Regions from separate parts of the Homo sapiens genome. Here region 1 is linked to region 2. Evidence: fine-mapped expression QTL. Tissue or cell type: whole blood. Region 2 holds a variant in brackets; the other region holds the start of a gene. All regions are shown on one strand. Distances are from middle to middle.

The links. PIP is the estimated chance that this variant, and not a neighbour inherited with it, causes the effect.
Region 1: LINC01801 starts here. The variant in region 2 is fine-mapped to the expression of LINC01801 in whole blood (TOPMed, PIP above 0.99). The same link has a PIP of 0.9 or more in testis.

What each region holds. Positions count from the first base shown.
Region 1 is chr19:34,831,499-34,834,103 of GRCh38, reverse strand. It overlaps LINC01801 (long intergenic non-protein coding RNA 1801), which reads left to right and starts at 1,235. Exons shown (of 6, transcript NR_033982.1): 1 at 1,235-1,379; 2 at 1,568-1,774.
Region 2 is chr19:34,814,856-34,817,612 of GRCh38, reverse strand. It overlaps LINC01801 (long intergenic non-protein coding RNA 1801), which reads left to right. Exons shown (of 6, transcript NR_033982.1): 6 at 123-1,459. Among named protein-coding and RNA genes, the nearest start is that of LINC01801, 17 kb to the left of the region's middle. The variant C/T (reference allele first, on the strand shown) is at 1,324.

The DNA.
Region 1 (2,605 bases), 17 kb before region 2:
TGAGGTTGATTCTGAGGTGCCTGTGTTTTGCTTCTTGATCTAGATTACATAGGTTTGTTCATTCTGCAAAAATGTATTGAGGAATAGACAGATGATTTGTACACTTCTGTGTATGAATGTTATATTGTAAAGTTTCTTGAAGAATACCTGTTTACAAGAGTTAGAGAACATGGAAGCTCTTTCTCTGAGATAAAACATCTAAAAAGACAAAAATTAGCCGGGCGTGGTGGTGGGTGCCTGTAATCCCAGCTACTCGGGAGGCTGAGGCAGGAGAATGTCTTGAACCCGGGAGACAGAGGTTCTAGTGAACCAAGATCACACCACTGCACTCCAGCCTGGATGACAGAGGAAGACTCTGAGACTCCGTCACAAAAAAGAAAAAACAAACAAACAAACAAACAAAAAAGCCCTAAGTCATATCATGCCAGTCTCAGCAGTTTGAAACCCTCCATGGTTCCCATCTCTCAGTAAAAGGCAACGTTCTTATGACATCCTTCAAGGCCCCATGTAGTCTTTTGGTCCCTCTCCATCTCTGTCCTCCTGTCATCCACGTCTCCCACGTGCTGATTGGGTCTGGTAGGGTGACTGGGTGGCAAAGACCTCACAGAGGTGCCTTTCTGCTCAGGTGGCAAACAGGAGAGTCTATCTGGGCCCTGCAGGATGGATCCTTCCTGAGTCACTGAATATATTGGAGGTGCAGACAGCGCCAGAGAAAGGCATTGAGCCTGCCAGATCAGACACCGCCTCTTAGGGTCGACGGAACACCCAGGAGCAAAGACCAGAAATTGTGGGAGAAAGGCCTGGAAGGGGGCCGGGGAGAGGCACAGAGACAGCGAGGTGATGCAGGCTTGGTGGGAGCGGGTATGGTAGGCAATGGGGGACAGAGGGGCAGGGCACAGACAAAGCTTGCTGAAGATATGAAGAGCAATTGTGAGCCGGCGAATCCTTGGAGTAGAGGAGAAAATTGAGGTCTCCTGTTCAGCCCGATGCAGGTGAGATGCTGTTGGAACACGTGACAGAGAAAGGGTGTGTGAGCCCAGGGCTTGTGCACTAAGCGCACAGGAGCGAAGGGGGCGAGAAGAAAAAACGACGCCCAGCAAAGAGCGTCAAGGCCCAACCGCCTGCCCCCAACCGGTCTCTAGCGCCTCGTGACCTTCTGCACTCCGTTGCAGGCGTTTGGCACCAGATGGTCCCACGCGCTCTGTTCGACGGTTGGGGGCCGCGGACGCTGGTTGTCAGCAGCACTGGGTCAGCCGGTGAACGGGTGTGCAGCGTCCTCAGCGCCGCAGCAGTCAGCACCTGTGGGTGCTCTAGCTCTTTCCCTCGGGGTCACCGGAGGCAGAGCCTCCCCTACGCGGAGTAGAGGAGCAGCTCACATGGTGCGGGGGTGGGGATCGGGCTTCCTGGAAGGCTGGAAATGGGAGTTGGGATAAGGGGTTGGCGAGGGCGGGGCGGCACCGTCTACCGGGGTGACCGGTGTGCCCTGGCAGCCAGGGAGTCTGCTGCAGGGCAGGTATTAAGATTCGGAGAGACATAGGACAAAGAACCCTCGGCCTCTTCTTTTCAGGCAGCCGCCACAGAGGACACCAGATCATGCCAACACCCCCACAACTCCTGCCCGCCTGCAGGCAGCTCTGGGCTCAGGACACCGCCTGCAAGAACCTTTATAGCGCAGCTCTCCAAACCTTGGAGGCGAGGACATTCTATGTGCCCGCCCTGGAAAGGCCTGAACCTATAACATCTGGGCTGTGATGGTTTCTGAGGTGGACACCAGGTATTCTAAACTGCCCACATGCTTCACCCCAAAACTTCCCTTTCTAACAGGCAGTGTATTTTCACTTCTTTTAAAATATTTGGTAAAACAGCATTTAAGCCTTAGAAAGTTCCCCATCTCACCCCAGCCAGGGTTTGAACCCATGCTGTCTGATTCCACAGATCATGCATTTAACCACCAGACTTTGGTGTAGCCTCACCGTGTGTGCATAATGGATTACACTTGTTTATAATACTTGGGGTGCTTAGCACCATGTCAGAGCTGTAATGAGTACTTGCACTGTTAGGAGGTCTAACATGGTTCAATTTATAAGTGGACCATTGGCCACACCGGGTCTGGCTCAGTCTCCTGGGAGGATGTAGGCAGGGACCACCAATTATCAGCATATCTCCATGATGAATTTCTCCAGACAGCGTATCACTCTGTCACACAGGCTGGAGTCACAGCTCACTGCAACCTCGAACTCCTGGGCTCAAGAGATCCTCCCACCTCAGCTTCCCAAGTAGCTGAGACTGCAGGCATGCGCCACCACGCCTGATAATTTCTCTTCTAATTGAGCTTTGCAGAAAGCCACACAGCTGTCTGAGAGCTATTTTCTCCCAGGTATAGGGACAGGAAATGGCACCTCAGACTTCTGCAGATTCCACCCTGGCTTAAAAGCCCATGCCCCCAAGGACACCAATCTTTCTTACAATAACATAGACTATCTTTCAGGGTCCTGGCCAAGATGGACAACTTGCCAATATTAACTTTTCCAGGCCACAGGGATGATATATATCTCCATAGATTTAGGTCTTGAGTATTTTCTCCTAGAAATATTTCGCAGCAAGG
Region 2 (2,757 bases):
TGTCCTGACAGTTCCAAGACAGGAGGAAACCCCCCCAAAGCTTAGGTCTTCCAGGATAACACTGAAACTAGAGTGTAGTGTTGCACGGCTGATACTCACCCATCTCTCTCTTCTCTCCACAGGTGAACATCTTAGGCTAGTGTGTCGACTTCTGACTTGGCTCATCTGAACCCAAGTCCTTGGACACATTCACAAACACCCCAGGGTCTTGGGCTTCCAGTTTGTGCTAGAAGGACAAAGGGCAGGTGAAGCTTGTTTGCCGTAACTAGAAGGAGCAGAAACTGCTCCCAGCAGAACAAGATCAAATCATGGGGAACAGTGGTCACCTGCCATTTCTAGAGGAAGCTTTTGCTTTTGGTCACTGAGGACCCTAAGTCTTACATGAGAAGAAAACAAATAGGGTGATGCTGCATGCTTCTGTCCCCAAAGAATCCCTGTGCAGGTGCCGAGGGTGCCCCAAAGACGAGGCTGTGCTTGCCGTGCCCACCACAGAAGCACATTTGACCTGATCAAAAGCAGGTGGAAAAGGTCCTGAAGCACAGATATTTTCTCAGTGATGTTGTTTTCTCCAAAATGAAAGAGGGAAGGTACCCTGGCTTAGGCCCCTGGTGTTCTGATTGAAGGTGAGAATGGAAGTATCTTCTTCAACATGTTCTCCCATCTGACTGCAACAAGTGTGCTCCAGCCACCAGTGTCCCAGTTGCTCTGAATGATGGTGAGAAGGGTACCCAAACACTTGAATGGTACTGTACCCTCTACTTGCCATCTGAATCCTCACTTGTGGAACCCAGGCACTCTGGCTGTATTCGCGAGTAAGCATAGGTGTGGGACTGTGTCCTGCCATTGCACCATCTTTAATCTGGACTTGTGGACCTCAGGCTCTCTGACTATTCATGGACAGAAGTTTCTGCAGGCACAGGTGGGGTGCTGTTTCCTCCCATTGTACACCTGAATTCAGGACTTGTGGACCCCAGGTGTTCTGGCTGTGTTCATGAACAGAAGTGTCCCCCCCAAACAAACCCATATATGGTGCCATCTCCTCCCATTACAGGTATGGTGCCATCTCCTCCCATTGCAGGCATTGCACTGCCTATACTCTGGACTTATGGCCCTCACATGCTCTGATTGTATTCATAAACAGTAGTTTCTTCAGTCACAGATATGGCACCAGCCCCTCCAACAGAAACAGATGTGCTCAAGCTGAGTGGTCCAAAGGCGTTTGACAGAAGTCATGAACAGAAGTATCTTGGGGCACATGTTTCTTCTCTGTTGTGCAGGCTTCTCCAGCAGTAACAGGTTTGCCCAGGCCATATGGGCCCCAAG[C/T]GCTCTGACCAGACACAAGAAGAGAAGACTTGCAGTCACAGGTAGTGTGTTGTCCCCTGCTACTGCAACATAGGTGCTTGGAAAGGTGCAACAGGGTGCTCTGCTTGTGGTGGAAACATAAAGGCCTCCAAGCATAGATGTGCTGCTTTCTCCTTCCCTTTGAGGGATGCAGATGTGCTCTGGCCAGCTGCATTCCAGGTGGTCTGTCTGCAAGACAGAAGTGTCCCAAGCACTGGTATGTGCGGGCTCCTCCAACCACAACAGACGTGCTTTGGCCAGATGGTTTCCAGGTGTTATGAACACAAGAAGGAACAGAGGTGCCTTCTGGAACATGTTTCTTCTCAGTGATGTTCTAAGAGGTGTGCTTTGGCAGGACAGGCCCCAGCTGCTCTGACTGTAGGCAGGGAGGAAAGTGTTTCCCAGGAGTTTTTGCTTTCAGTAGTACTGCCCTCTCCAACTGTACCAGAGGTGCTGTAGGCTTGCAGGAACCCCGGTGCTCATGTGTAAGCCTCCCCAACATAAACTAAGGTGCTGCATGCCCCTCTAGGCCCTGTTCTAAAGCTGAGTGCTTCAGATGTGGAGCTGGGTCTGGGGCAGACACACTGGTCCTAGAGCTGTCATTATCCAAAGAAGCCCCAGAGTCCATGAATGGAAATGGGTCGAGAGAGGGGTTAGCAAAAGGTGAACTGTGCCTGATGCTGAGCATCCAGTGATGGCTCCAGAGCTAGAAGTAGTGGCTGTGCAAATGGGAAAAGGACCCGAGGTGCCACCCAAGGCTGAGTGGGTGCTAGCAGAGATATCAAAGATGGATATGGAGGTAACACGTACGCAAAATCTGATGGCATTATGCTCCCATTGGGTGTCTGGGCTGCAGTAAAGGCTCAGTTTAGAGCTTGTATTGAGATTTTACGTTTCTCAAAGGGTAAATGCTATCAAATACATTGGGGGATCCTGCCAGGGGGAGGCTAGAAAGAGGACATGGTAACCATATTGATTTCATCAGAGTTAAAGGCAGACTTGGCTGCCCAGTTGGTCAAGGTCCTAGCTACTAGAAAACAGACAATTGCTGAAGTAGTGATAAGTATGATGGTGCAGACAGGTATCCTAGAAGACTGACTCTTTGCTGCTGCCCTTTAGGAGCTCCAAATGTGACTGAGAGGTGGCTTCTGGGCTAAAGGAAAGGTTCAAAGTGGGGTAGGGCTGTTTACCATAAACATAGGTGGGTTAGTGGGGACTGCCTTTTGCAGGGGGCTGTCCACTCCACACTGCAATGAGCCAGTCAAATGGGAGTTCCAAGACCAGAGGAAACCTAGCCCAGAGCTTGAGTCTTCCAGGCTAACCCTGGGTCCTGGGGGGACCAGGAGATGAGACCCAGGGAATAGTAGTGTCCATGTCGGTCATCTCAAAGGTTCAAAGCAGGCTGGGAGGTCAAGT